6 separate regions of the Homo sapiens genome follow, and regions 1, 2, 4, 5 and 6 are each reported to be linked to region 3. The links are microRNA targets in miRTarBase. Many come from high-throughput screens and were not tested one by one. Region 3 holds a microRNA gene; each other region holds the end of a gene's coding sequence.
What was found. The annotated mature microRNA hsa-miR-34c-5p reads AGGCAGUGUAGUUAGCUGAUUGC and lies in region 3 at 1,666-1,688, shown strand. An mRNA with a match to its seed (bases 2 to 7 or 8) in the 3' UTR can be bound and repressed. Matches are read on the target gene's strand: a 7mer-m8 pairs with bases 2 to 8, a 7mer-A1 pairs with bases 2 to 7 and ends in A, and an 8mer does both.

Region 1 (5,072 bases), not on the chromosome of region 3:
TTGGTTCAGATTCATGAGGAAAACACTCAGCTGTATCTTCATTAAAAGGCATTTTACATTTATTAAGGCTTGAAAGCAAGTCCTGTTATTCATCACCATAGTTAAAGGTCTCGAGAAAATCAAGTAACTATCATTTGGAGTGTCTTTGTAAAATGAAACACTTGTTCTTTTACAAAAGCTAAGCATCTTTTGTTAAGCTAGTTAACTCCCCAGCTTATAAAATAGGACAACGAGGTGGCCAGGAAAGTAAGACAAATTCAAACATCAGCTGGATAATTTATATTTTAAATATATGTATAGTCAATATTGTGAAATCTCTAACTCTACATAAAATACTTCAGATGACTGGATCCTTAAAAGTACATTTTACCAAAAACAGATTGCTTCTATAGAAACACAGAATAGCCCAAACCTTATATTGAGGCAACGTATTTTATTTATTTTTGGTTGCAAGAAAGGAATTGGATCTATTTCTTTAACGTTAAATGAAATTATGCACACTTTGGATCATACATAATTATGAATCGAAAGTATCCTGACACTAAGCTGGGAGATGCATACTGACAAAGGGGAAGAATGTGTGTTGATGAGGAGGGCACATGTTGCTTGATTTGAATGATAAAGAGAAATGGATAGAAGACAATGGGGCTGTGTGCAGCAGGTCCTGTTCGCTTAAGTTTTCCTAACATCAGAATCAGGGTGCTTCACATGCACATGTCTTTCTCTGATGCTTTCTTAAGATTCTCCTTAATGTCATTTAAAAAAATAAGAAAGTGATCCCTTGGGAATCATTGTACTTAGTTTTAACCATGAGTTAACATTTCCTTTTTCCAAGGAGGATGACACCAGCATCTTGATTCACCGTGCAGTTGAGATGGCCCCTGGCCAGTGGGAATTGAGGCGAGTCACAGAAGTACTTACCAAATACTCACCTGCTGCTTCTAGTTTAATTTAATTTTAGACACACACTCTCACAGTGATGCTAAACTCTTTACAAGATAGACCCGCAGCTTCCTGCCTCTGCCTCTCTCTTAGTTCTATTTGTCCAGGCCTTGCTGATTTCTGGGACTCTCATATGGTCAAGATCTATTTCAGGCATGACCTATCTTATGACAGTTCTAAGATGCTTGGTATTGTCTGTCTGTGGAGTGGCCATGGGGCACAGAACTGTGAAGAGCTTCTGTTGTTTCATTTGATAAGGGCCTGGAAAGTCAGCCTGGGAAAACTCGCACTTGGTGTGGCCTTTTTCTGATAAGATCAAGACTTCACTGGCCCCACCAGCACAAGAAGGGAATGCTGAGGACAGGGCCATTTCCCAAGATAAAACTAGTTTGGGATCGTGTGGCCAAATAAGCTGATGGACTCTGTTTCCGACATTTCAGCTCATTTGCTTAGTGCTAGGTCACTCTACCTCTCGTTTAAAAGAATATAGCTATGCTCACATCTGTGACTCTGAATTTATCAAGCATTTGACTTTCTTTATCAGGAGATGAAGAAACTGTGCTTTGGATCCATCATGATTTTACTTATCCAGCTTACTTTTTACAGTTATTAAAATCTTACTCAATACCTTCTCTCTGGGCCAAACTCAGAAGCAGGCATTGCTGACTAGACAGTGAATTCAACTCAGTCATTCTGAGTTTGACTCTTGCTTCTGCCTTCGTCTCCCACTACCCTGCTTCCCCCACCCCCAATAGTGCTGTGCAAGTCAAAGAAGATAAATAAATACAAAATAAAATAAGATCTCAACACAAATACATCCCCTTTCTGTGCCACCAAAATGCTTTCTGAGCGATTTGTATTCATTCAGGACCAATGAAAAGGAAGCCTCCTACCCTATAGCTGTATAGTTGTGGGGTCCCAACTGCAGACCCTCCCGTGCTCCCTGAGTTGTTCTTGGGACACCTAAGGACCTCACCACACTGTTGCTGAGACATGATGTGCTGCACATATGATAAGAAGGCCAGACAGGCTGAAGCATCTGGAGAAAGATCTCTTTTGAAACAAAAAAAAAAAGGAAGGTAATATTAATATTATTGTTACTTTAATATACCATAATAAATCTAGTCATAAGACACCATAACTAACTCTTAGTCCATAGTCACTTGCATTATATGATAATCCAGTGCTGAAATATAAAGAAATTTCTGAATTAAGTACCCAGAAGTGCCTTCCTTCTGTACTCCTCCCTCTCTTTCAAATGGCTATCATTGATCATATAACACCCCCACCTCCTTGTCTTAATATATTTATCTCTGTAAAACTAGCTCAACCACAGAAGGGACATCTAGAAACAGCAATATTGATTTGGTTTGGCCTGTTTGTTTTTAAGGACTTTCCAGTTGCTGAATTCTGAACATCCAATCCGAGTCCTTGGAATTCTGCAGACTTCTCTGGGGTGGAGTGGCCTCACCGGAGGCTTGGTTCTGTTTTCTCTGTGGCAATTGGCTATGATTCACAGATGTGTTTCCAGAACAGCCCAACTGTGGGTCTCAGGGAAGTAAACTGCCTCTTAGGTCATCCTGCCTGTGCTGTAAATTCGGGGAAGGATTTCTGAGTACAGCAGGATTTCACACTAATTAAAAGGCCTTCGGGATCATTTCAGCCCTCATCCCCCAGGAGGCCAGTTTGGGGCTTTTCCCTACAGTAAAAAAGGACTCTTTCCTCACCAGTTCTCCTTGTTAAACATCTCCAGGGCACAATTTCCAGGGGGACCTGGAAAGGTTCCTTTTGAGGTGGAAATGAATCAACTCATTCCGCCTTTTCAAAGCTTTCTCAGGCTTATAAAGTGTCCTACTGAGAAAGTTCCTCTTCCTCAATGGGCTCTAGGAGACCTCCTGCTTCCTCTCCTCTGATTTGATCAATGGGTTACTTTTTTTCTTCAGAGATCCCTGGAGGCAGGTAGGTCCAGGGATTGCTTGGGTTAGAATTTGTTGATATTTCTATGGAAAGGACCCGTGCTATCCTGCCCTTGCTGAGAAATGAGCCAAGTCCAGGGGCTTTCCAGCACTTGGGAGCCTCACCCTTTACCAGCGAACACTATAGAAGGGGGATTGTTGAAGGTAAGGGCCTGTGGCAAATGGATTTTCTCACCGGGCGTTCACTGGGAGAAGGAGTTGATGAGTGCATTTTTCTTAGTTTCCTCTGCACAGGTCCCCAAGCTCAGGCTGGGTAAGCTTTTTAGGAGATGAAACTTAAGGAGAATGACAAAAGAGTGAAATATTAGCTTAAAAATTTTTCCTTTTTTTTTTCACCTGGCAGTTGAGTCAGATTGTAGGAAAATTAACCCAGATGGGTCTACATTTTTCTTCAAGTTCAAACCACATGGTTTCCTAGTCAGAAAGTCTCATGGACTTTCTTCCTAAGGTGTTCTATGATCAGACCACCTCCTAAATGTGGCTTTTACCCATTACAGGCTACAGTTGAATCAGGCAGGAGCAGCTGCTGGAGAGCACCCAGCCGACAGACCTGCATTCCAGAAGCAGCTTGGAGAAACTGGGAAGACATTTTTGACCCATTCTTGGGTTTTTACTGTAAGGTTAGCAGTTACATGATGCCACCAGTCCAAGACTTAGATCATGAGAGAAGGCCTTTTTAAAAGTTTACCAGGGAACATCGAGGCTCATAAAGAACTCTTTTGTCTTCACCCATCTCTCCTCCTCCCACTCCCATCCACTTTCTCATAGCTCAAAAACCACTCATTGGTAAGCACAGTCAAACCCAGGCCTGTAATCACCTCTGAAACAACTACTCCTAAGCAAGCAAACCCCATGGCTGGTAGACCCCGTGGGTATTTTGGCATCAACACTGCTCCCCTCCCCTCCCATCCCAGTCACTGCAGTTTAGAATTGCATGCCAATTTCCTTTTCTGGCAGGGCCTGGACGGCATGGAAGCCAGGGACAGCATGGGCCAGGTGCGCAGCAGCAGCAGCGCAGCATTCCTGGCACTGCAACAAACTGAGAATGTGTCTCAAGTGACTTTCCAGTCTGGCCCTTAGTGCCCAATAACCAGAGTGTCAGAAGTAGTGAGACTGAAGCTGTGTTTGCCAGACACCCAAGTCCATAGCCAGCTCGGTACTCCTCCATTCACTCTCTCTGTCTCCCCTAATGGGGTAATAGATCTCTTTCTAAGAAGGATGAAGATGGCGTTTGTCCTTGGCCTTGTAGGTATGGACGGAGAGGAGGGTAGAAAAGGAGTTGGTGTTGCATGTTTCTAAAGCATCTGAGAAGGTATTTTGATATTGGCAGAAGAAGCTAGTGGCAATCCCATATGTGGGCTCTCCAACACTGACTGACCCCAAACATGCTGAGCCCAGATCAGGCTGGCCGGCCGAAAGGTGGACTGTGTCTATCATTTCTGCTAGATTCCTATGTGAGGAGGCCAGGGATGGTGCTGACCTTCATGAAAGATAGCAGGCTGGAGTTCCCATGATACCAGCAAGATGAGGCTTGATTATAAAAAGTGCGCCTCAAGGCAGTGATACAGAGGAGTCTATGAAGCTGGAGTCTTAGGGGAGTGGTTGAGTCCTTCTGCAGCGGGGATGGGGCAAAATGGCTGTGCTCAGGATCGGCTGAGGCGTTTGGCGACATCAGCGTAGGCCAACTCGATCTCACTGTCAGCTGCACAGGTGTTGGTGAACTCATCACGGGCATAGGCGTTCTTGAGGTACCGCCACAGGCCTGTCATCTCAGCCGGGATATCATAGTTGCGGTATTTCTTGGCCACAATCTAAAACAGAGATGGCAGGACAGAGGTGGTGTGAAGGCATGAAACAAATCATTAGAAAGTGTTAGTGGCCGTCCCAGTGTGTGTGCACTGCAGGAAACCTCCGTGCATCACCACGGGCCATCAGTGATATGTTTGAAATGCAAGGTGGCAGTGCTGTCTTCTTTTTGTTTTGTTTTAATTTAATTTCTTAAGTAAACATAATTTGCCCTTTGACCTAGTGTGTCAAATTCTAGGAATTTTTTCTCAGGAAATAATCATGGATGGATATAAAGATTTACCTACACAATTATGATCCCAGAGCTATTTTGAATAACAAAAATGGTGCACAGCGCCAAAGTCCAAC
Region 2 (5,072 bases), not on the chromosome of region 3:
CCATTTGACATTCAGACTCTGGAAGACCAGCGTATGTTCCTCAGTTCCTAACTAGATTGATTTTAGTTGTGTTTACTTGGGATGTCTTCTAGGAGATAAGATTTACAGAACTGCTCTTTTAGACTATTTGTAGATTTGTGCTTTTGGGAGAGTTTTGGTTTCATGTTGTCTTGATTGCTGTACTTTGGTAACTGAGTACTTAGCATTTAAAAGAAGTGAAGTTCTACCTAAAAGGTATATCTCATTTACACAGGTTAAGTCATGAACAATATGAAAGGAAGCAGAATTTGGTATTTAATACTCAAATATATAACCAAAAATAGTTTGGTGTATAATACTCAAATATATTTTAAAAAATTCAAATATTTGACTTTTTTTTTGGAGTGTCAAAGTATGACCCAAGTTTTTTTTTTTTTTAAAGGTATTTGAAATAAGAAATACCGAAGACCTAACTGAAGAATGGTTACGTGAGAAACTTGGATTTTTTCACTAATGTGAACTTCTGTGTTTCTAAAGTATTTATGTATTAACCTGACCATACTGGAATCAGACATAAATACTTATTTATGCCTAAAAATGCACTGTTACTTACAGTTTGTTTCCTGCAGTAAAGAAAAATTCTTCATTTGTGCAAAATTTGAACAAAGAGGAAATCATCTTCATAGTAATGAAACTTTGTAAAGTGTTTCCTTATATTGGTAATTGTTAGGTGGACTACTTTTCTCCAGGGACTTTTTGCACTCTTGTGACTAATTTCTATAACTTATGGTTCGGAATTTGTTACTATTTACAGACACCATTGGAAAGTGGATATATTAGATTGTGAGAGACAACAGTTGCCTCCTTTTGACAAATACTGGATATTAGCAGTTTATTTATGAAAATAGCGTATTATCACTTGTCAAATCATTGAAATTCATTTGGGGTCAAAGACTTGAGTGACCCAGTATTGAGCCATGAATAATTTAGTGTAACCTGTATTACAAGTACATTGATGAATTCTGTATCTTCTTTGGTTTCCTGTATCTTTTTAATCAAGTCTAGAAACTATGTTCATCAGTCACTCATTTTTAAGGTCGGGAGTTAGATTTTATGATAGAATTATGACTGTTAGCTTTTCTCCTTATAGCATCTTAGTCTTAGAAATTGGTGGGTTGTAATAATCAAGGGCTTCATTCCTTTTATGTCATTTCTAGACAGTTTTGAATCTAGGTTAATAACACTTTATTTATAAAGCACCTCAATGTCCTGTGAACACTAATTATTTTAAATGTGTTAATACTGTGCCTTTGATTTGTTAGCTTTAAAGTTAGTTTAAGACTTTTACACTGCCAGTATTCCACATTTGGTGAAATTAATACTTTTTTAAAGGGTCCAAATAAAATAATTTTCTAATGTGTATATCTGAAATTTGTAATAAAATCAACTTCATATTTTAAAAATTCCAACTATCTGCTTGCATTGGTGAATATATGGCAGTCGAGAGTTATAATTTTGGGTATACTTGTGGTTAGTTTTGTGCCATAGGAAAAAATTATCTTAAAACTTTGGCCATAGTTAATAACATTAACACTTCAATAGCAATCACATCTTATATCCTAAATGTCAGAAGATATTCTGAACTGGATGCCTGAATAGTTAACTAAACCAGTCTTGTTAGATGATGGTACTCTTGGCATAAAGCGAGGATTCTGATATTTGGCATACTTGTAAAAACAAATACATAAGTAACCATTGAACATTAATTTGATAATAGGTCTAGAGACTCTAAAAACTAACCAAACTTGGTGAGTGTATTCTTATATTAAGAATATCTTAGTCATCTCAAAACTAGCAAAATTTAAATTTTGGCATGTTTTCCATTCATATGTTCTTTGCATTTTATTTTTGAGGTTTCTGTGAGAAGTAAAGATAGTTGGAATTTTTGCGATATTGAATAGAACATCTTCTGTTCCCAACACTGTTTGGCTTCACTAATTTAGAAGTCAGGAAGCAATAGAAAGTTGGAGATGAGGAAGTGCTAGAGTAGGTGTTTGTTTTGGTTCTTGGAGGGAAAAGATTCTTTATTCCAATTTCCAGAGAGAAGAGAAAACTCACCCAGGAAGTTTAAAAATTCTTTAAACAGGTATTTTGATATTGGAGAATAACATGCATATAATTCTGTAGGAATGCACATGTAATCCAAGTGAGTGGAGAGTGTTTTTAATGTTTTTGAATGAAGGAAATGAGGTTTTGTTTCACCTGTTTTGCAGCAGTAAGAGAAACTAGTGCTGCAAGAATGTATTTTTTAATGAAGTTCCTTATTTTGTCTTGCATGTTTTAGTTTTGCTTATTTTTAAATTTGGAGGTCCTCCATAATGTCAGATAATATTGACCTGCCATACGTTAGCACTCTTAGTTCCGCTACTGTCTTTAACAGGAGCAAAGAGCTGTGATAAACCATGCTTTTTTGAGCTTGTCTGACTCCTAATTAATAACATGTTTTTGGCAAGACAACAGATTGAGGTTAGAGGATCAGTAGGACATTTTTATTCCATCTGTCCTATGGGGAAATTTACAAATCCCGTGCTCTAAAATGTTCTCAAACATTTATATAGATTTCCCTTTCATCTTACTAAATTTTGCATTGTTCTTTTCAAGTATGTTTCGTATTTACTGTCTTTTTTTCTGCCATTTCCCAAATAATAACTCCAGATTTCATAATTCCAGTTTTTACATTCCGTTATCTTTCTGGTACAACCATTCCCATTCAGCCTTAAATCTGAGTCCTTTTTAGCAGCAACTTTTTTCCTGGGATCCTCCTTCGTGGTCTTCTAAGTCAGTGTTAGTTTTGAAATTTTTGGCCCTGCATAAGTTCTGCATAGCATCTAATGTCAAAATAGAACCAACTGGTAATCACAGTATTATTTAGTGTGGTTTCCATGACAACAAAAATACATACGAAGAAAACTTCTCAGGTTACTATGCTGAAATTCCAAAATGTCTGAGTTTTGAATAGTGATCACTTTGTTCTGGTATTGACGCAATTATATTAGGAAAAAAGTTGGTTGACTGTTTTTGTTTAATTGACTTCTAAAATGTTCAAATTGTCTAGTTCTAAAAGTTTACTAAATGCCTAGTGCAGTTAAACATACTCTTGTTTAAGTGTGTGTTGCTAAATTTTTTACTGTCATTACTAAATAATCTGTGTGGCAAAATGTGTGTCAGCACTTTTCCCTCCTTTTTTATCTCCTATTTTCAGGAGTCAAATGTAGCCATAAACTGTATCCTTGTCTGACACTTTAGCTAAAAATTTCCAGTTAGGGGAGTTTATTGCCAAATTAAATTTGGCTGTTCCCCCCAACCCATATAGATATTAAGGAAGGTGTACTTAAAAAATGTTTGGACTGCTTTTAAAACCTGAGCAATGTCATTAATCCATATGTGGACTAGTGATGAATAGATATTTTCATAAGAGTTTAAATGCTGATATTTGGTGGAAGTAGAGAGTAACTCATATTCTATCAATTCAAGTATTCTTACTATGGTTGCTTTCCCTATTTGTTCAATAGACTGATAATACTGGAATTTATAGAGTTTGAGCCATTACAACTTTTGTGAGGATGTGTTTCAAACATTTCTGGACAAATCTTATTTTGTATTTCTGGAAGAATGTAGTAATCTTCTAGACCGCTTAAAACCAATGCTCCCAAGCTGAATATTCTTGAGAAATTTGTTTTTATTATGCCATTTGACATTTCAAATCAGTGCTCATATACAGTAAACTTGTGATAGAAATTGTATTTTATTGCTTTTTGGATTATAATTCATATAAATATAATTACTTGAATATTGTTTGAGATCATTAACATGCCAGGGCAGTTCCCACTGATTTAGATGGTCCAAGATAATCTCATTCAGGAGGCTTGAAACATTAATGGTTTAGTCTTGTGAATTTTAACAGTTCTCTGTCATCGTTTAACAAAACCAACAACTGACACAACTCCTTAAGCTGTGGTTTCAGTCTCTGCTAGTTCATATTGCATGTTTATTTTGGACAGTCTTTTGTTAAGCATGGTGCTTGTACTGGTTTAAATAAAATGTTAACATTAAAAGACTTCCAGCTTTTCTTTTTTTACTCACCTCTTTCCCCCTTTGGAGTTACTGGTATGTACCTGGCTAGATTTGTGTGAGCCATAAACTTTATCTGGACAAACTGAGAGGCAAAATAAACAAGTCATTTGGCAGCTTGGTGGAAGGAGAAGATAATCAAGTTATAAAAATTTCTAAAACTTGGTCTGATGCTAAAATGTAGAAAATGTCAGTAAACAGTAGTAGGGACAGACAGAGCTATTTCAAACAATGAACGCTTGCTTTCAAAGGGAGAATTCGAAGTTAGGAGAGCTGTATACTTCGTAAGAAATCAAATTGAAGGTTTTTTTAATTGAATATAGCTTATCACTATGTATTAAACACCCATTGACAACCCGTCCTACCTTTATTACCAACTGTACTATATGGTATATGTTCAATAGGTATCTACTGAATGAATACAAATCACTAATAACATAGTTTTTAGAGTTTGCCATGTACTTGTGATTGTGTATGTTGTAATAGTCACAATTTGTTATGATGGTGAAAGGAGTAGTTTATGCCTTCCTGTCTTTAAGAATTTCACAAGGAAAATTGGCCCAAGCATGGGAACATTTATATCTTCCTTATTTATCAAATTTGGCCACTTAACCTACTCAAACAGCCAGCTCTTAAATTTTTTCACCTTCACTAAATAATACCTATTGTCTTTTTGTCCTTTTCACTTTTCAGCAGCAAGAAGCATTTGTAAGCACTTAGCCTCTGAACCTGGGCGCACTCTTGTAACCACCCAATGGGTTCTCCTTGCCTGCTGCCCAGACAGAGCCAATTTATTAAGATAGGAGAACTGCAATAAAGAATTTTTAGGCCTGGCGCGGTGGCTCACGCCTGTAATCCTAGCACTTTGGGAGGCTGAGGCGGGTGGATCATGAGGTCAGGAGATCGAGACCATCTTGGCTAACACAGTGAAACCCCGTCTCTATTAAAAATACAAAAAATTA
Region 3 (5,072 bases):
TGCATCAAGGATCTACTCAAGTCTCACCTCCTCTGGGAACCTTCTTTGACCTATTACAGCTCTCATTGAGGACCTCCCTTCTATTTCTGATACAAATAGTTTCTACTATTCTAAATAGTCCCTAGTTTAGTAATTTATTATATATATACTGTCTTGAATGGTATGGCCTTGATCTCAAGAGGACCACGATTTGATGTAACTAACAAGCTGCCTGGCTCACTATTTGACTAGAAGGCCCAGGCTTCACATCACTGCATGGCCCTCTAAGAGTATAAGGCCAAGTCCCCAACAGAGCACAGAGGTGCAGATGAGACTCTCCAAGCCATCCTCCCATATGTCAGAGGCTACCCAAGCCCACCTCCATTTGGAAAATTCAAACCTATAATTTGAGGTACCTGGGAAGCCGCTTTCCCAGGGCGGAATGGTCACGGAAACTGGGTAGGCTGGGGGCCTTCTTGGGGAATGAGGGAGTGGAGGAGCTCTTTGTCCCTCCTGCTAGATCAGAAAGAGAAACGTCTCAAGAATCTGGGCCTCCATCTTCTAGGCGTCTCCCTTGGAGGCCCTTCAGGGACCGCCCACAGCGCTTTCTCTCAGCCTCCTCCCCCCCCCCATCCCCTCCCCCACCCGCCCCGTCTCGCGCCCGCCCCGCCCCTCGGCCCGCGGGGTTCCAAGGACGGTTGGTCGCCCCCGCCACAGTCACTCGGCCGCTCAGAGCGGCGGGGCGCACGGGGTCGAGAGAGCCAGCTCTAGGGTTTGGGGCTGGGAACTGAAGCCTGGCGTGAAGGAAGTGGGAGCCCGGGCCGAGGAGGCGAAGGGGAAAGGAAAAGCGAGGGGAACCTGAGCGGGAGGGCCCTGAGAGGAGCGGGAGGCTGCGGGAAGGGGAGGCCTGGCACTCCTGGGGGTCATGGGGGTCGGGGCGCGGCTCCCGGCCTGGGAGGGCGCGGGTCCTCCCCGGCAGCGCCGCCCGCTGGCCCAGCTACGCGTGTTGTGCGCTGCGAGGCCGGCGGGGGTCCCGCTGGGCCCGGGGGTGTCCTCGGGGGCCGCTTGCGCCCAGCCATGGTAGGGCGTCCCCCGGTGAAATGGGGTCCGAGGCGGGCCCCGACCCCGCGTCGGCGCTGCGGACCGTCCGGGAGCTGCAGCCGCGGGTGCCCGGTGCTCGGTTTGTAGGCAGTGTCATTAGCTGATTGTACTGTGGTGGTTACAATCACTAACTCCACTGCCATCAAAACAAGGCACAGCATCACCGCCGCCCGGCCGGGAAGAAGACGCCGGCTCGGGCAGCCCGCAGCCTTCGAGAGAAGATGCCTGAGAAGCGCGGCGTCGGCGTGGGTCCTGCGCAGCCTGCCCCGCGAGCGCCCGCTGCAAGTGCGAGGAAACCCGCGGTTTCTCCAGATACAGTTAAACTGTTAGCTCTCTCTAGGAGTCACAGAAGATGAAACAGTCTCATGCCAGGAAAGCAAAATCCCTGGAGGTGAAGCCCCTCCATCCATGTAACGGTTAATACTGTATGCTGTGATTCACTGTGTCTATTTGCCATCGTCTAGTAGAGTATTCACCAAGCTAGCAACTCAGTTGAGCTCCAACTCAACCAATGAATTGCCTGCCTGTCACAACGTGTTGGGGTACCAACTTGAGACTGCAATTTTTTCTATGAGTCTAGTTACTAGGCAGTGTAGTTAGCTGATTGCTAATAGTACCAATCACTAACCACACGGCCAGGTAAAAAGATTTGGGAATTCGTCCAAATGAGCTGCCTGTGCATCATCAATGTGCGTGGGGAAGAGGGGTGTTGGAAAATGCTGATTTCATCCATTGCCTATTAATTGCTCAGCCAAAAGAAAAAAATCAACATTTCAGCTACTAAGTTTACAATGTATGTAATGTGTATGTATGTGGGGTTTTGTTTTGTTTTTTTTTCAATATTCCTTCAGGCTCTTAACCAAAATTTTAGATATAAGGGGGAATATGATTTTTTTCTTAGCTGACTGATGTATGTTATTATATGAACATGTGATTATTAACTTCTTGAGACTATATTGTTAGTAATATTTTGAAAGTAATATTGTTAGTAATATTTCGAAAGAATAAAGTGCCATAAAGACATAAATTGTGGTTATTGCTATGTGTCCATTTCCTTTGCTAAATTGACTTTATGATGTCCATCTCAGTTCCTGCCACAGTAATCTTAACTTTTCTATCAATGAAGTGGTTAAGTTGTTCCTGCCATGACAAAAATCTCCCGGGAAAGCTACTCATACACACAGACTTGTTAATACTTTTATAAGAAATACATTAACAAAATTTTTCATACTTCTTTTTTCCATGAAGAGACTCTGTTCACTCATTAAGATGTATCCCTTCTTTTAAGTAATCATTTACAACTGTTGGAGTCTATGCAACTTTTAGTGGGAGTGATTAGTAAATGCACTTACACTTTAAATCCAGCTTGTTTCCTAAGATTTAAAGGATTCAGAATTTTAAAATCACAGAAACTGTACACATGGGCACGTATCCGCCCAGTTCAGGCCTCTAGCTCCCAAGGGCTAGGCTTTCAGGCGTGAATTCTCCAGCGCAACGTTCTCAGAACTTCCACCTAGCAGGTGCTGTCCCTGGCAATCTGGTTTGGAAGTGGGGATTGGGGCAATGGGGCTGAGGAATTTAAAGTTTATTTAGCTATCTTTCTGGGGGGAGGGGAGAGGATGTGGCAGCCCACTGAGGATATAAGAAGCTAAACTACTCCCCCACTGACTCCGACAGGACACAACCCAAAGTTGACGTTTTGACTCTCCCATATCCAAGATTTGGACTGGTCCTAAAACCTGATCACCGCAGGGGTGGGCTTCCGACGGCCCCCACGCGCGTGGCGGATCCCAACACCTACCTAGGAAACCGAGGGCAGCCGGCAGGGGCTGGTACCAACTTGGCGGTTCTCGGAGGGGCGGGGCAGGGGCGGGGCGGGGGGAGGGGAGAGGACGCTTGCAGAAGCGTCCTCAGTTGCCATGGAAACGGGACCCAGCGAAGAACCTAGCGGCCGAAAAGAGTCCCAGGAAATGTGCCCCCCGGGATTACTGGTATTTGCTGGCTCCTCGGAACAAGATGCCAACTTGGCTAAGCAGTTCTGGATCTCGGCGTCGATGTATCCCCCTAGCGAATCTCAGCTGGTGCTGCGCAGAGACAGCAGTCAGCGTCTGCCGGTGGCGCGGCCCAGGAGGAGCAGAGGGTCTGGTGAGTAGAATAGCGGCCTCCTGTCAGTCATATCTGCCTCACCGTAACTGGCCTGCAGGTACCAGAGCCCTTTCCAGGAGAAACTGCAATGGTATATACAAATAGTTATAAGTACATACAAATGCATGTATAAATATTTCCTGAACCCTTCCAGCAACCCTTCCACCCGAAAAGGATCAGTGGTATATATGTTACATCTAAAAACATATAAGTTTCCCTTAAATTATGGCATCTATTTGGTAAACAGTATAGAATAATCTGAGGAAATGCTATGTGTTGGCTGAAAGGATAGTTTACATAGTTTAATTCAAACATGAAAAGCCCTGGAGAAAGATGAAGGTGGAGTCAACATTACCAATGAACTTCCTGGACCTGTGAGCCCTTAGTGAGGCCTAGGATGTGGAAACTGTTATGCAATTGTTATAGTATAAAAAATTCAAACGCCTTTAATGTTGTTGACTTTTCCAATGATTTCTTTACTTCCCTTTTGTATTTTTTAGAAAACAGCCACTCCTCGCAGTCTTTTCACCTTGCGAGTAACAGTAAGTACCAAGTTTTATGCCTTTCAACATTCTGACTCCTAGGTTCATCAGAAAATAGACAATAAGTACAAGGGTACTACTTTACACTGTGGTATAACTTTCTGAATTGAACACCTAAGTCCCTGCTCAGGGACCACCCTGTTTATCCAGAGGACAATGCCTAAATTCCTTTAACAGTTTGAACAGGAATGTAGAAATTGGAATCTCTGATCCTGCAGATATGCTCTCTTTCGAGACTTTTTCTTGTCTCTGGACTCGAGCTTACTCATCATCTAAAGAGATTAGAGGTTCCCTGCAGCCATAGCTAATTAACTCAGTCTCCAGTTGTTTGCAAATCTGGTTTGTAAAGTTCCAATACACCACATGTATTTTTGTTTACCTTCCTACTCTATGTATTCCCTTTCAACCCATGTCCAATTTTATATCAATTTTAGTATAAAATCATAATAAAATTATTTCAGATTGAATTTGACTTTATTCCCTCTAGAAAATAGAGACATCTTTGCCGAAGCCCTAAAGATACAGGAATCTGAGGAGAAAGTAAAGTATCTCCAAAAGGTAGGCCAATATTTCAGAAGGTCATCTGATCATCATTAAATTTCTAAATAATCTTGATTTTTTAAACACATGTATATTTAAAAATCTGCTACTTCTAGTGCATCAGCTTGAGCAAATTAAGGAAACCTTTATTAGAATTTTAATTGAAAATTTAAAAATTCTATTCAACATTGGCTATTATCAATCTCAGCAAAAGTCCAAGAATGTATAGGAACAACAGAACCAGAGAGAAATAGAAAGAGGTAGAGTCACACACTTTCCATCCAGTAAGGTCCCCAACCATATACAGTGTTCTAAGAACAGAAATAGCATAAGAGGCCAGGTGCAGTAGTACACACCTACAATCCCAATGCTTTGGGAGACCTAGGCAGGAGGATCCCTTGAGGCCAGGAATTCAAGACCAGCCTGGGCTACATAGTAAGACCTCTAACTCTACAAAAAAAAAAAAAATTTTTAATTTGCCAGGCCTGCTGGTGCATACCTGTAGTCTGAGCTACTTGGGAGGCTGAGGCAGAAGGATCCTCTGAGTCCAGAAATTCAAGGCTGCAATGAGCTATGATCTCACCACTGCACTTCAGCCTGGGCAGCAGAGTGAGACACAGTCTTAAAAAAAAATCATAAGAACAGGAAAAATCAAATAGAATTAATTGTCTTAATAGGTCAAAATTAAATGATCAGAGGAATGAGTCTGTCATCTAGACCTGTTTTGACTAAAGGCTGGAATTAAACACATTGGTGTAGTCAAAT
Region 4 (5,060 bases), not on the chromosome of region 3:
GCGTTCTGCTCTGGCTTTGGCGCCGGCCTCCGTGGCCCCGCCCTCGGCGCCGGGCGCGCACTTCCCGCGGGCGGGGCTCGCGGCTCCCTGGCTCGCAGTGCCTGCCGGGAGCCACGTCTCCGAAGACCGATAGCTGCTTCGGGATTGGCGTCCGGGCGGCTATCTAGGGGCTGCTGGGAAGATGGCGGACTCGGTGGCTAGCCGATGAGGAGGCCGCGGGGGGAACCCGGCCCCCGGGCCCCGAGACCGACTGAGGGAGCGACCTGCGCAGGGCCCGGGGAGTCATGTAGGGGTGGCGCCTGCGGGGAGGGCTGCGGGAGGGCAGCGGGAGCTGGTGTTAGCGGCAGCGGCCACGGTCTCCTGGCGTCCCTGGGCCGGGGTGGGTGTTGGGGCCCCCGACTTCGCCGACTCCGCGCCATCGCAAAGCGGTGCACTCGGGCTCCACGCGCGCCCTGCGAGGTGGGCGCTGCGTTTTCATTTCACGGGTGAGGAGACTTAGAGAGACGAAGCCACTTGTCCAAGGTCACGCCGCTGGTGAGTGGGAGCGCCCAGCATGGAACCCAGCACCGTCCAGCCGCGGAGCCCGCGTTCCACCCTCTGTGCCGCCGCCGCCTCCTGTGGGAGAGGGAGGTGGTCGGGAGAGTGCACGCCGGTGCCGCCTGGGCTCCAGACTGGGCGCGACCACTAACCCGGTTAATGACCTCGGGCTTAACTTAACCCCTTCGCTGCTCTGGGCCTGCGTTTCTCCACCGGTGAAATGAGGTAATGCCAGCCCTGCCTACTCTTCATGGGCGTGTAAGGAGCATCAGAGATGGTGCATGTGGAATTGCTTTGCAAGTAGTGCTGCGCTGAGCGCACTGAGGATTATGATTGCTGTTTCAAAGGCGTGGAAGGAGGCAGAGGGGCGGGGTGGGGAAGAGGCCCAGAGCAGTCACAAAGGCTTGCTCTGACCACAGGCCCCCTAAATGAGGAGTGAGGTAAGCAGTAGGTAGCAGGTCTTTCTCCCCTTTGGAGAAAACCTCACCCCCTTTTTTGGGCTGCCCCTCAGGGTCTCCATCACCCAACTCCATGCTTCGAGTCCTGCTCTCTGCTCAGACCTCCCCTGCTCGGCTGTCTGGCCTGCTGCTGATCCCTCCAGTACAGCCCTGCTGTTTGGGGCCCAGCAAATGGGGGGACCGGCCTGTTGGAGGAGGCCCCAGTGCAGGTCCTGTGCAAGGACTGCAGCGGCTTCTGGAACAGGCGAAGAGCCCTGGGGAGCTGCTGCGCTGGCTGGGCCAGAACCCCAGCAAGGTGCGCGCCCACCACTACTCGGTGGCGCTTCGTCGTCTGGGCCAGCTCTTGGGGTCTCGGCCACGGCCCCCTCCTGTGGAGCAGGTCACACTGCAGGACTTGAGTCAGCTCATCATCCGAAACTGCCCCTCCTTTGACATTCACACCATCCACGTGTGTCTGCACCTTGCAGTCTTACTTGGTGAGGAGGGGCTTGAGGTGGGCGCCTGGGGGGCTAGGTGTTAATGAAGAATAGGGAGAACAGTAGAGGACCACGGACAGAGACCCAGCCTCTCAGGCGTTTGCCCAGGAACGCTTGCTCCTGCTCCCGTCCTATGTCTGCGGCAGACATCATGAGTCGAACGCACTCCTTCCGGCCTCGCTAGGGTGCCACCCCAGATTCCTGCTAATAGAGTGCCCTAGGAAGCCACCATAATTTGTCACAATTGGTATGAGATGAAAGCCTATTTGCCATCTTTGTATGTACTCCCTACAAACCGTTTCGATACCTCATAGCCACATGATACTTTACATGTCTCTAGTGTTTGCACTTAAACTCTAGCACACCTTCCCGCTCAGGAAACGGGAGAGGAGAAAGGTGGAGAATTCACCAAGTAACCCCATGATAAGAACAGCAGCACAGCTCTGTTACCAGGCTGCCTTTTACCTCTCCCCCTCAGGCTTTCCATCTGATGGTCCCCTGGTGTGTGCCCTGGAACAGGAGCGAAGGCTCCGCCTCCCTCCGAAGCCACCTCCCCCTTTGCAGCCCCTTCTCCGAGGTGGGCAAGGGTTGGAAGCTGCTCTAAGCTGCCCCCGTTTTCTGCGGTATCCACGGCAGCATCTGATCAGCAGCCTGGCAGGTGCTGGAGGGGGTTAAAATCAGATGGGGGTGGGGAGGGCTGACAGGAGGAGGAAGGTGGGCTCAGTTGGCTGGGCTGAGGTGGAATTGAGCCAGCCGGAGGTCCGGCTGAGGCCCAGCGTGACAGGCTGCTCTTCACAGAGGCAAGGCCAGAGGAACTGACTCCCCACGTGATGGTGCTCCTGGCCCAGCACCTGGCCCGGCACCGGTTGCGGGAGCCCCAGCTTCTGGAAGCCATTGCCCACTTCCTGGTGGTTCAGGAAACGCAACTCAGCAGCAAGGTGGGCTTGCCACCCACCCTCCAGTGCATCTCTGTCATTCTCAGGGACCTTGTCAGGCCCAGCGCCTCGTGCAGCTCGGCTATCCTTTTCCTGAAGCAGACACACCCTCTCTGTCCCCTGGGACCTGCATCTTTTCTACACCCTTTCTGTGGCTTGCCCACCTCCTGTCAGCAGCATGCATTCCTGGAAATCTGCAGTTTCCCAAAGCACTCTTAGCAGCATCCTAGCTCCACCCATCCCTCTCGAAGTCTTCAGGGCCAGACCCCACAGCGATGTCCCCTCTGCCTGTCTGGTGATTAGTCACGTGCAGCTCGTGACTGCTTTGCTGTTGAACTGTGAGGCCGGAGGGACTGTCCTGTCTTTACAGCAGTGTTGTAAACCTGAGGGCTAAGCCTCTCTAAGGCTTAGCTTGTAAAAGATGACTGCAGAAATACTTGACACTGGGTAATGAACTGCTCTTCCTCCACAGGTGGTACAGAAGTTGGTCCTGCCCTTTGGGCGACTGAACTACCTGCCCCTGGAACAGCAGTTTATGCCCTGCCTTGAGAGGATCCTGGCTCGGGAAGCAGGGGTGGCACCCCTGGCTACAGTCAACATCTTGATGTCACTGTGCCAACTGCGGTGCCTGCCCTTCAGAGCCCTGCACTTTGTTTTTTCCCCTGGCTTCATCAACTACATCAGTGGTACGCAGCCAGGATGGCTGGCTGGGCCCCTGAGGGCTGGAGAGGCAGGGGAGCAGGGTGGCCTGCAGCCCAGAGCCCCAGTCCCCGCCTCCCCACAGGCACCCCTCATGCTCTGATTGTGCGTCGCTACCTCTCCCTGCTGGACACGGCCGTGGAGCTGGAGCTCCCAGGATACCGGGGTCCCCGCCTTCCCCGAAGGCAGCAAGTGCCCATCTTTCCCCAGCCTCTCATCACCGACCGTGCCCGCTGCAAGTACAGGTGGATGGGGCAGCCTGGGGCAAGGGGAGGGGCCAGCCTGGGACCAGCAGAGTGGAAAAGCCAGAGGGACCATGAAGCGCCAAAGCTAAGGAGCTCTCGGCCACCATAAAACTGGGCCCTGAAGCAGCAGAGGGCTTTGCCCAGGGTGGTGGCACTAGACTGGGACAGATTAGGATGAGGTGCCGGGCCCTTCCTGCTACTGGTGTCCTTTCTCCTCAGTCACAAGGACATAGTAGCTGAGGGGTTGCGCCAGCTGCTGGGGGAGGAGAAATACCGCCAGGACCTGACTGTGCCTCCAGGCTACTGCACAGGTGAGCAAGGGGCAGGCGGCAGGCCCGGGGAGACGGAGCCCTGGCTAAGGCCGCCGGCCCTGCTCCCCTCCAGACTTCCTGCTGTGCGCCAGCAGCTCTGGTGCTGTGCTTCCCGTGAGGACCCAGGACCCCTTCCTGCCATACCCACCAAGGTCCTGCCCACAGGGCCAGGCTGCCTCTAGCGCCACTACTCGAGACCCTGCCCAGAGGTAAAGGAGGCAGGGTGGGGGAGCCCTGGCCACCTTGCCCGCCATGCCCTGAGCCACGTCCCTCCCCCTGCAGGGTGGTGCTGGTGTTGCGGGAACGCTGGCATTTCTGCCGGGACGGCCGGGTGCTGCTGGGCTCGAGGGCCCTGAGGGAGCGGCACCTAGGCCTGATGGGCTACCAGCTCCTGCCGGTGAGTGGCCCTGGCCTGGCCCGTGGCGCATCCTCACTCCCAGCCTGCGGGTAACCTGCCGCCCTCTCCTCTCCCCACAGCTACCCTTCGAGGAACTGGAGTCCCAGAGAGGCCTGCCCCAGCTCAAGAGCTACCTGAGGCAGAAGCTCCAGGCCCTGGGCCTGCGCTGGGGGCCTGAAGGGGGCTGAGGGGTTGATGTGGGGTTCAGGATGGCCCCCCCATGGGGGGTGGATGATTTGCACTTTGGTTCCCTGTGTTTTGATTTCTCATTAAAGTTCCTTTCCTTCCCCGTTGTGAATCTCAGTTTTGGGACGGGGAGCAGAGCTGAGTCCCCCGCCTCTTCCATTCATGCCCCGCCCCCCATACAAAGACAAAAGGCCACAGATAGGTGGGGGCCAAAGCACTTTACTGCAGGGGCAGTGGGGGAGGAGAAGACTTTAAATTATTCACTTAAATAAAAAGGAGGGAGGGGCATGGGAGGGGGAACCCCATCCCACCAGCCTGTCCCCTCGTCCATCGGTCCCTCGGCTGTCCCTCGGTGGCGGCTACACAGGCATGGGCATCTCATTGTACTCGTCCACACCCTCCCGCTCATCAAACACCGGCTCTGCCTCGTTAGCATCCAGCTGTGTGTGGGGAGGTGGCGGTCAAGAAGGGAAGTGGGGGGGCCTTTCCAGATCCACAGGGAGGCAAGAGGAACCGGGGGAGGCAGACGGGAGGGCTTACACATTTCATCTCTCGGTCGGTGAAGATACGGGTGAGCACCACCATGCGGAGCGGCACTGTGAGGATGAGGATGAAGGGGAAGGCCAGGGAGGCAGCTGTGGACATGACGGCCCAGAGCAGGGCCAGGCAGAGCAGCTGCAGGGCCGTGAACAGGTGCATACGGAGGGTCCGGACCTGGGGGGCGGAGACAGGTGAGCCCAGCTTCCTCCCTAGCCTGCTGCTGGGAAGAGCCTCTCTCTTCTTCGGAGGCGGGGATGGAAGAACATTCCTAGGTGC
Region 5 (5,072 bases), not on the chromosome of region 3:
CTCGGTTTCAAATGTTTCTGAAAGCCCTCAGCTTCCCACTACAACGGCAACCGCTGCTTGGTAGGTATCAAGACTGGGGCTGCTCCCTGGGTCTCAACCTTCATGCTTTCCACTTGGTTCCTGCTCATCTTCAAGCTGTCCTTATCCAACATGGAAGACACTCATTCTCAGAAGTGCTCTGGGAAACCCCATGTCCTCAAAGTCCTCTCTAGGAACCCCACTGCCGTCGTTCCAGCCGGTTTCTGCCACACCCCCACTGACAAGAAATGAAGAGTTGCTAGGGTGAATACTTGGCACGCCCCTCAACACTAAACAGCAGCAGCATACTGACCACATGTCAGTTTCCACATTTTCTTTCCTTCTCTGTTTTTAAGGGGGTATGAAATGATTTATACCTGCATGTTTTCAAATCCACTTAAGACCAGGAGGTGCTATGTGGACAAATAGATCAAACTACCTCAAAACTTTACGGTGACAATCAAGCCAAGGTAAAACACGCTAAAATCACCACCTGTGCACCCACCTCTTCCTATTTTTCCGCGGGTGAGTGCCAGAGGAGGGCGTTCCACATGGGGGCTCTAGTGCGTCTCACGAGGTGCACTTCTCTCATGCACCAAGTGAAAACCTTACACATCTTCCCTGCCTGGCATTGCGCCAGTAGGCAGAAAACTTGGTGCAACAAAACTCAATTTTTGTCTTTATTGGCACGTGGTTTCCTAGACAACTATGGACACAATTCCCTCAGAACAGCCTATGGTGCAAAGGGAGGGAAGGGAGAGTGTCAGAATGTGGAAGGCTTGTCGTAGTTGGTTACAGACCTCTCTTCTGAGCACCTTGTTTGTGTCAACTTCTGGCTAACCTGAATGAACACCCATCAGCTGGGAGAAACAAGCACTAGGGGGCACCTTCATGGTCACTGGTAAAGAAAGCCCTAATTATCTACAAAATGGAAATGGAAAACAAACATTTAAAGTTTTATGCATTTTAGTTTTGAACTAGAAATCTTCCAAGTTTAATATATACCTTCCTAGTGAATTCCCCTGCCAAAAACAAACAAAAAACCCCTCCCCTAAACCAAATGGTATTCCTGCATCTTGGGCAACAGCTCCTTCACTGTCAAGTAGTTCCAAAGGAAAGCACGAGTAGGTAAGAGTCAAAAATGCCACTGAGTTTTTGCTGTGATCAAATTGATCAGGAGACAACAATGTGGTTCTGTAAAAATCAGCACATCAACAATGTGTCTTCCCACACTCCATCTGGGGAAACCCGGCTAAGCAGCCTGGAAACAGAGTGCCAGGTCACTCTCTACATGTAGGGCTGCTGGGCAGCCGCAGTAACGTGTGCCCGGATGCATCTGTGTACACAGCTCTCTGGTTTGCTTTCTGCAAATTGGACGGAAAACAGAGCCTGGCTTCCCATCCAGTAAATGGTTTTCAAACTGCGAGTCAAGAAAACCGAAAACTTACTCCCCATCTGCCTGCTAGGTGGCCTTCCTGCATTTACTGCCACATCCCTTCCTAGCCAACTGCTCCCTGTCTAGACGGAAGCCACCCAGTGTCAACGTCTGTGTCTCCTCACCTGAGTCATCTCCATCTGCTCAGTGCCTTGTGTACTGCATTAAGTACTTGCTCAGAGGTCAAGAGGAGGAACTGACTCACGCAGCATTAGTGGATGTTCACTAAGCCTTCTGTTGATTGTAACGTTAGTATAGGGGAAGGGCAAAAGCAGAATTCTGACCCTAAAGCTTGGCCATCTGAATGAACTCACTGCACCATGCTCAGTGCTGTGGGAAGATGGTTAGGCAACAGAAATGTCCTTAGGAAGGAGCTCTAGGTATCTACACCTGACCAGGTGTTCATGCCACATACTAAAAGGTAGGGGGACAAAAAACAGACTTACTGAGTTGTGTCCCTTTCACAATAAATTGTTTCCCTAATTTATCTAAATGAAAACTGTCTTATTTAGGCCTTATATATGTGTGTCTGTGTTTACAATAAGGACACATTTAAAACAGAAAACTCAACACCTATATCATACTACACATAAAGTTAACTCAAAGTGGATCACAGACATAAATATAAAACAAAAAATTCTGAAACTTGAGAAGTCTTTACACTTTGGGCTAAGTGAAGATTTCTCTTAGGATAGAACATCTTAGTGAAGATATGACAAAAGCATAATCTATGAAAGAACAAACTGATTAAACTAGACTTCATCAAACTGAAGTCAAGCGAAATGAAGTAACGTTTACACAAAAACCTGTACGCAAATGTTTATAGCAGTTTACTAATAATCTCCCAAACCTGGAAACAACCCAGAAGTTCCTTAACTGGGGAATGGATAAACAAGCTCTGGTACAGCCACACAATGGAATACCACCTGGCAATAAAAAAGAACCTGCAACATCATACATGAATCTCAAATGCATCATGCTAAGTGAAATAAGCCAGACTCAAAGGCAACATATTGTATGATTCCATTTATATGACACTGTCAAAAAGGCAACTATAGAAACAGAAGAGATCATCCTGCCAGGGGCTGGAAGAAGGGTTGAGTATAAAGGGGTACAAATGATTAGAGAAGATAAAGAAACTGTTGTATGTATTAACCGTGGTAAATAAACAGTATGTGTTTGTCAAAATTTGAACTATACATTTTAAAAACAGTAACTTACTCTATGTAAATTATACCTTAACAAAGATGAAAAAAATAAAATCCACATAGATGGATTCAGTCCACAAAGGTGTTTACTGAAACACTATAGCAATAATCCAAATGTCAACAGGGGTGGCAGTTAAGTAAGTAGGATGTCCACAATGGAATATTTATGCTCACTAAACCCATTTTCTTCCCCCAAATGTGGGTGACATTAAACAATGCCCGTGCTATTTATCTGGGGAATAAAACCATATACAAATGGTTACACGCACACACACAAACGCACGTGTGTCCCCATGCAGGGGTGTTTCTCCACGCAGGGGTGTGTGTTTACCCACAGGGGGAAGTCGGCCTGCTGCCTTCTCCCACTCTGTCTCCAGGTCCTTCTGCCCCACTTCAGTCTGAGCCCTTCAGATGAGCACTGCCCACCCATCTGTACATGCTGGCCAAGGGGAGAAATTCTGCATGCAACACCAGACGACGAGGTGGTAGGTGACGCTGGGTGATAGGGATTTGTGTGCAGGATTTTAAAACAGGATTATAAAGCTGCATGAAACTAGAAAACAGTGGGCAAACAGACCAAGCCAGCACTTTATTTTAAAAAGTTTTATTTTGGAGATTTAGAAATTTGAGATTTTTAATAACGGCAAAAGAAATTCAGTCACACCTAATGATTAACAGAATGTAGTGGTGTATTATCTAAACAGAAATCGTGCTGATGTGCCATAATAAATTGTCTATTAGTAAAAAAATACACTTTAGGGCACAGCATTGTATCACAAATTACAGTAGGGATACTTTGCAAGAATTTAATCAAACTAGAGAATTCTGAGTAACTGTATCTTTTAAATGCAGCACTTAAAAATGTAACAACTCTGTGCATCCTTTTTCTTAAAAAAAATGACCTTGCATGTGTCATAGAAACGCTGCTTTATTGCTGCAGAGGTCAAAGTTCAAGGCTCAAGAGGTACAGGAGAGAATACAAAGGTAGCCTTTAGAAACGTGGTCTTGTTTATGTATAAAAAAGGTAAAGTTTATAAAAGTTAATTTACAAACCAAGAACAAAAGTGGTATGCACGCATTATGTACAAGCATCCTTAAAACATCAAAATTTTCAAATGCATAGCCAGAAAGAACAGAAAACCACCACTGCCCCTTGTCAAAAAAAAAAAAAAAGAAAAGAAAAGAAAAGAAAAAAATATCCCCAAATCACACCACTATTTTCTTCTGGGTGATAACACATTTCTGAAACCACCAAATGCACAACGTACTCAGTCTTTGTCATGATACAGTATCTAGATAATGCACAAAAGCCATAAAAACTTAGTAACACAAGGAGAATGAGCTAAGAATTAAGAACATGAGGGTAAGGCATTTCTGCTGGTTAGTATGTCTGTGGTAATATGGTGAAGTTAGAGATCTGAAGAGGCCATGGAACCAGTCTCACATGCTTTTGTATCCTTCCCTAAGAAAAATGTGTTTTCATGTACAGTAAGTCATTGTCTTCACTTCACCCTCCCCCAGTTGTAAATCTCCTTGCTGTACATTTCTGTTAAATCCACAACACTGGTTATATATTCCAGGTGCATTTAAAAAATGTGTGCATATTACTTCATGCATAATAAAATAAAATGTGTACGTATGCTAGGCCAGGGCCATAGTAAAGTTTGAAACAGTGTACTTTGGAAAGAACAGACCTCAAATGCACCCCCATTTACTGGCTGGTATTTTAACGGAAATCAATATGTGAAGTTAAGCAGTGACGATAAAAAAATTACAAAAATCACAAAGCAAAATATCTTTGAACCTCTAGCCAATACCAACAGTCCCGTCAATCACAAACATGCAGTGTGTAGCATGTTTTCCGACCATGGTTCAGGGGCATGCTCACTCATCTTTATCAGTTCAAACAAATGCCTCATACTAACAAACTGTAGTATCAACTCTAAAAAAGGTATAATACTTGATAGAGTGGTTCCATTTAGATTAAGTTTAATCCAGTTTCACATTATTTAAGTTCCTATATTTCAAGAGTTAAAAGTGGTCAATAAGGACAGAAACACAGTTTGCTCCAACGAGATAATTTGGATCTCCGGGAAGACACTTGTTTTGCCAGGTTTTAGGATCACCTATGAGAGAAAAGAAGTTGATGTCATTTACAGTTCAGTAAACTGCTATCCGTAATGCTTTGCAATTATAGGGCAAATACGTATATTTAGACATAATTTTCTTCTGTTTCTTCAGCATATTGAATTTGTATCAAAACACATTGCTGTATTTCAAAGCAGATCTGCTGGCATCTAACAATTCCAAAGGTGTTTCACACTTCTAAAAAAATTTTTTTTAAAACGTTCTTTCTAACTCACACCATTAAGAACAGTTTTTTGTTTTTTGTTTTTAATTTTCAGACTTCT
Region 6 (5,072 bases), not on the chromosome of region 3:
GATGGGCAAATGGCCTGGACTCGGAGATACCTCTTTTTCTCTGTCATCTTCCAAATGCTGGACTTGGAATGGGGTCTGGAAAATCAAGAGGAAGATGTCCTCCTGATTGAACTTGGATCCAGCCGTCGGGTTCAGCGGCCCAGGGGTTGAGCTGAGCCGGCTGGTGGACGCTTGGAGAGCCTGCCGCTGAGGCTAGGGCAAGAAGGGCGTCCTCTCTGTGCCTTCTCCCCAGGCCAGGCACAGCGCTGGCCCCTTTCCTCCTCCCTCCCCTGCTTCTGTTCTTGGAGCATCTCTGGGTGTGTGTGCGCAGGCGGGAGAGCAAGCAAGAGAAAGAGACCTGCGAGGGGACGTTTGGGGCCGCTTGTCCGCGCACATCTTCTTCTCCTGCTCATCACACCATCTCGCCAGGGAAGTTGAGCACTGGGGAGGAGGGTGATGAGAGGCTAGAGCCAGCCAGAGTGCAGGGAATGTGGGGGGAAGGGTCAGAAATCGGGAAAGGGGCGACTGGTGTGGATGCCGGGATTCACCAGAAGCTGAGTCACTCGGGGGGATTTCTGTCCCAAAAGGGACCTGTGCACCCCCACCCAATGTGATCACAGCTCACAGAGGCCCAAAAGTCATCAGCATCTTTCTAAAAGGGCTGGAATCTGGCTTCAAAAACAGAATTGAGCCACGTAGGGTAGCTGAAGAACAATGCATAGAAAGAAGTCTGTGGTCTGGCCAGGAGAGCCACATGGAGGGGTCCTTTGCTTCAGGCCCCAAGCCACCTGGATCCCGCCCAGCTCTGGACTTCTGAGCGGGTTCTAGGAAACTGACTGAGTAGGGGAGAAGCCCAATTAACCTTGTTCTCAGGGCAGGATAAGAATCAGGCCTCGGGATAAGTGCCAAGTTCCTTTTCTCTGCAATTGCCCCTGCCAGGCCTTGCTCCACGCCATGAGTGCAGATCAGACTTTTGCAGGTTAGGATCTGGGGTATGTGCCTTGCTCTACACTCCCTGCAATAAGTGAGGGGGAAGGAAGATGGGCCAACTCCTTTCTTCCATGAATAGGAGTGATTCAGAGGTTTCTAAGATGCTGAAGACAGGGACACATCCGGGGGATGAAGGCCCTAGTCTGTGATCTCACTCTAGAGAGGCGATGCCGGGAGAATTCCAGAGAAGGCAGTGAAATTTTGAAAGAATGCTGGTAAATGTTCTGAAAACTGCTGGAGAATTCCAGTGCAGCATTGGAAAGGGCCTCCTGCTCCATGTTCCCCTGGGTCAGGCAAATGGACCTCCCTCTGCAGCCAGAAGAAAAGACACTAGACGAGGGTCAGCATGCCACAGTGGACAGCTCCTGGCCTTGGCGCCTCTGCCGACAGCTGTCCTGACCACCGGGAGGGTATTCTTTCTACTGGGGGACAGAAGAGGTTTGAGGACAGACATTTAGGGGATGCAATGAGCTCAAGTTCAGAGTATAATTTGATCCACCCTTCAATATATAGGACTTCCTTCTTCAACAATCTTTCCCTTTCCTGCTTGTCAGGGAGATATTATTTTGGGTTCTTGGACCCAATCTTTAAAAGCCTTTGCATGCCTGACCTTAATCCTCAACCCCAACACTACAAACCCCACTTCAGCCCTAAAATGAGTCACAGTGTTTGGAGAAATCATTTAAATGAGCAGCATCAGAAACAGCCTCTTTGGGGGACTCCTAAATGTGTTCAGGCTTTAGGATGGGAGTCTTTGGGGCTCAGAACCCTCTTCAAATATTCTAGGGCTACAGCATGCACTGAGGGCTGAGCAGGGGGAGTAGGAGGGACTCTATCAGGGAAGTCAGTTAAGAGCTGCCCCTGCCTCTCAGGTTCAGAGAAAAAAGAATTGTGAGGCCACATTGTCTGAGCAGGAGATGCTCACCCAGTGCCCTTCCTCCCTTCTAAGCCCTTAGGGTTCCCTCTGTTCAGAACTGTACCAGACAGGAAGAAATCAGCCCAGATTTGGACTGGGTGGGCGCCTGCTGCCCTGTCCCAGGGAGTACATGGTTAGGCTCCTCTCTACTGGGTGGGCGCCCAGACTCAGCCACCTCACAGACCTCTAGGGGTGTTCCTCCAACCTTGTCCACACCCCTAAACATGTCAACATTCCTGAGACCAAAATGGCCGATTCCCCTGAGTCCACCGAAATACAATTTTAAGATGAAAAAGGGGCCTCCCTCATTAATATTTCATCTTCATGACCTTATAATGTTTTGTTTTGTTTTGTTTTGTTTTGTTTAAAAATACCCCTGTCTGATTCAAATGGTTGTCTCTTTGTCTCTGCCCACTTGCTTTTTGCAACAGTGGGCAGAGAGTTGTAAAATGACTGGCTGTTCCCAACTTGATCATTTTTCAGTGATGAAAAGGTATTTTGTTTTCAAGGGAGGTGCCTGTGCATGTTCAGGAATGAAGAAGTGTAAGGATATCAGTGCTTTAGTGCTGGGAAGGTGCGAGCCTGGGTTGGGTCTGGGAGGGGTAGCTAGTATAGCCCAGTGGGTGTATGGGGGGTGGTTAGGGAGAGAATACTACCCAAGAATGTCCAGGGTCCCTCTGTTTGGCCTCTGCACAGTCACTTGACACTCTGCCTTCATCACCCCAGCCCCAGCTCAAACCTTCTCTCCCCCCTCAATGAAATGAGGCCACCGTGAGAAACCGGTCCGGCTTTGCATCTCATTTACATAAATATTTATTAATCGTCATTAAACTGAACAGAAACACGCAATGCACTTCGGGTGTCCGACGGGAGTTTCATCTTCGCTACAAGAGGAAGGTAAAATTGCGTGTGTGTGGGTGAGTGTGTGGGTGTGTCGCCTGTGGGATTGCATTTTTGCATCGTGTATTTGGATGCCTGATCCCCTGCCTCCGGTGGGCAGAGGGTCTCCTTTTGCCCCTTTTTGGGGGAACCTCCAGTAGGAGCCCTCAGACCTCTCCCCGCCCACCCACCAGCTAAAGCCAAGAGGACTCCTTGGACCAAAAAATACTCTCTCCAGACACCGGAAATCGCCAGGTGGCACCCACCGAGGCACAGTCCGGGCAGGGGTGGGGCTGCCCCCAGGTCTCCATCCCCACCCCTCACCCCAGGAGGGGACAGAATGGCCGCGGGGAGGAGGAGCCGGCGAGCTCACCTCCTTCTGCCCCCCGGACGCCGGCGCCGGGCCTGCTTGTGCGTGCGGTGTGGTGTGCGTGTGTCTTTCATGCAAACCCTCCCTCCCCAAACCGACCCCCCAACAGTTTGCCATTCCATACAAATTTGGAAACAGGTTTTTAAAAAACAGCATGACGCACAACGGGGACGGGGCGGGGGAGGGCAGTGGCACTGGGGCCCCAAATCTCCGAGTCACTGATTGTAAGAACCTGGGGAGGGGGAGGGGGCGGCGCGGGCCCCCACTTCACCAAAGTGCACAGATCCGCGCTCGGGCGGGGCGGCCCGCAGGCCGGGCGGGGCATCCCGGGGCCGGGCCGGGCCGCGAGGCTCAGTGGAGCCTCCTTGCATAGATATTTGTGTCTTTGATTATTGGTAGTAGTGGTTTTTTTTTGTTTGTTTTTTTGTTTTTTGTTTTTTTTGCCTTTTATTGCTTCTAAAAGTCCTTACTGCGTTTTCTCTCCGATCCGGACTCTGCGTTCGGCTTCCGTCGCCTCTTAGCTTTTTTTTTTTTTTTTTTTTTTTTTTTTTTTTTTTTTTTTGTATGTTTGTTTGTTTAAAAAAAGGAAAAGGGAAAAACGGATTCTAGTTACAAATTGTCTTGGCCTCTCTCTTTCCTCTCAATCCACTTCCCCTCCCGCCAAAATTAAAATCGCAAAACGCGGAGACTGGAGGTTGGGGGTGAGGGCGTTCCAGGCCCGGGCTCCGGCGCCCTAACTTCTACCCTCTTCAAGAAAGAGGGAGCGCCTGGCTCCTTTTTGCCTCGGCAGCTGGGTGTCTGTTTTTAAAATAATAATGAGAGGGGGAAACGCGTTCCATTGCTCAGCTGCCCCCTTACCAACGCCTTGGGCCTGCAGGGAGGAGGGGGAGGAGGAAACCTCAGCGAAGATATTGGGAATGGGGGAGGGGTGCCTCCAGGGAGCCCCCGGAGAGAGGTCCCTGGAGAAGCACTCCTTGGGAGAGAGGAGGAGGGAACCCCTTGGGGAGAGAGAAGGCGAGTCCCCTGGGGGAAGCGAGGCCCCTGGGACAGGCCACCCACAGGTAACAGGACTGCGCTGCCCCAGGAGAGCGGCAGGACCGGTGGCCCGCTCCCCGCGCCCGGCGCCGGGGTAGGATGGGGGTGTCCCTGCGCTCTGGGGGCTGGGGACAGGGGGGCGGGCAAAGGCAAAAGAAAAAGAAGGGAGCCGGCGCGAAGTCTCAGTTATGAAAAAACGCATTGAGCTCCTCGTACATGGGGCCCCGGTCGTGGTGAAGGTGCATATCGTAAGACAAGAGATTCTCCGAGTGGACGCCCCCGCGCACAGCCGACGAGCCGAAGACTAGCCCGTGGCCCGTGGGCCGCGAACCGGGCAGCGCCGAGTAGTGCATAGAGTAGTGGTAGCTTTTCTCGTGGTCGGGCGAGGAGTCCTGCTTGAGTGAGAAGTTGCCATTGAGACAGAGCGGGGGGCTGAGCGGGCCCTCGTACTCGGAGCTGTTGTAGTCCGGGCTCGCGCCGCCACCGCCTGCCGCCGCATACAGCGTCTCGTAGGCGGCGCAGTAGCCGTGGGTCCGCAGGGCGTGCGCCGCGCCGCCGCCCAGGCCGCCGGCCGCCTGGCACTGTGCGCCCGCCAGGCGCGAGCACGGGTACGGGTAGGGGTGCATGGCGAACGGGCCGCCCGAGCCGTGGAAGCGGCCGGCACCGTCGGCGCCTTGCTCCGTGAGGAAGTTGCGAGAGTTGAGCTGCAGACAGCCGGCCACCAGATTGGTGGTGGGCTGCGACAGACCCTTGCACAGAGTCTGCACGTAGGACACTAGGTCTGGCCGCTTGCCGGAGCGCAGGATCTCCGAGAGCGCCCAGATATAGTTCTTGGCTAGGCGCAGCGTCTCGATCTTGGACAGCTTCTGCGTCTTGGAGTAGCAGGGCACCACCTTGCGCAGG

Region 1: miRTarBase lists CLIC5 as a target of hsa-miR-34c-5p. Seed matches in the 3' UTR shown: 7mer-m8 at 4,474-4,480 and 7mer-A1 at 3,256-3,262.
Region 2: miRTarBase lists GMFB as a target of hsa-miR-34c-5p. Seed matches in the 3' UTR shown: 8mer at 1,327-1,334.
Region 4: the mRNA of SLC4A2 is a reported target of hsa-miR-34c-5p. Seed matches in the 3' UTR shown: 7mer-m8 at 4,474-4,480.
Region 5: miRTarBase lists TJP1 as a target of hsa-miR-34c-5p. The part of its 3' UTR that is shown has no 7-base or 8-base seed match.
Region 6: miRTarBase lists NEUROD2 as a target of hsa-miR-34c-5p. Seed matches in the 3' UTR shown: 7mer-m8 at 3,319-3,325.

What each region holds. Positions count from the first base shown.
Region 1 is chr6:45,898,527-45,903,598 of GRCh38, forward strand. It overlaps CLIC5 (chloride intracellular channel 5), which reads right to left. Exons shown (of 6, transcript NM_016929.5): 6 at 1-4,729. The coding sequence ends at 4,562. Among named protein-coding and RNA genes, the nearest start is that of CLIC5, 110 kb to the right of the region's middle. RefSeq lists enhancers at 341-894, 2,402-3,090, 2,492-3,691, 3,395-4,239.
Region 2 is chr14:54,473,509-54,478,580 of GRCh38, reverse strand. It overlaps GMFB (glia maturation factor beta), which reads left to right. Exons shown (of 7, transcript NM_004124.3): 7 at 422-4,096. The coding sequence ends at 493. Among named protein-coding and RNA genes, the nearest start is that of GMFB, 13 kb to the left of the region's middle.
Region 3 is chr11:111,511,786-111,516,857 of GRCh38, forward strand. It overlaps MIR34C (microRNA 34c), which reads left to right and starts at 1,654; the gene lies at 1,654-1,730. It overlaps BTG4 (BTG anti-proliferation factor 4), which reads right to left and starts at 601. Exons shown (of 5, transcript NM_001367975.1): 1 at 396-601. It overlaps HOATZ (HOATZ cilia and flagella associated protein), which reads left to right and starts at 2,993. Exons shown (of 6, transcript NM_001100388.2): 1 at 2,993-3,225; 2 at 3,726-3,767; 3 at 4,255-4,325. The coding sequence starts at 3,000. MIR34BHG (MIR34B and MIR34C host gene) reads left to right here. Exons shown (of 2, transcript NR_147706.1): 2 at 1,233-2,103. It also overlaps MIR34B.
Region 4 is chr7:151,075,911-151,080,970 of GRCh38, reverse strand. It overlaps SLC4A2 (solute carrier family 4 member 2), which reads right to left. Exons shown (of 23, transcript NM_003040.4): 22 at 4,785-4,958; 23 at 4,448-4,684. The coding sequence ends at 4,604. FASTK (Fas activated serine/threonine kinase) reads left to right here and starts at 162. Exons shown (of 10, transcript NM_006712.5): 1 at 162-286; 2 at 1,049-1,471; 3 at 1,950-2,129; 4 at 2,270-2,409; 5 at 2,879-3,092; 6 at 3,191-3,350; 7 at 3,570-3,661; 8 at 3,735-3,870; 9 at 3,944-4,058; 10 at 4,139-4,347. The coding sequence starts at 205. The coding sequence ends at 4,246. RefSeq lists silencers at 1-427, 3,890-3,969 and enhancers at 1-842, 843-1,819, 2,796-3,771, 3,772-4,747, 4,748-5,060.
Region 5 is chr15:29,696,903-29,701,974 of GRCh38, forward strand. TJP1 (tight junction protein 1) reads right to left here. Exons shown (of 28, transcript NM_001330239.4): 28 at 3,250-4,787. The coding sequence ends at 4,693. Among named protein-coding and RNA genes, the nearest start is that of LCIIAR, 25 kb to the left of the region's middle.
Region 6 is chr17:39,601,100-39,606,171 of GRCh38, forward strand. It overlaps NEUROD2 (neuronal differentiation 2), which reads right to left. Exons shown (of 2, transcript NM_006160.4): 2 at 2,669-5,072. The coding sequence ends at 4,352. Among named protein-coding and RNA genes, the nearest start is that of NEUROD2, 4.3 kb to the right of the region's middle.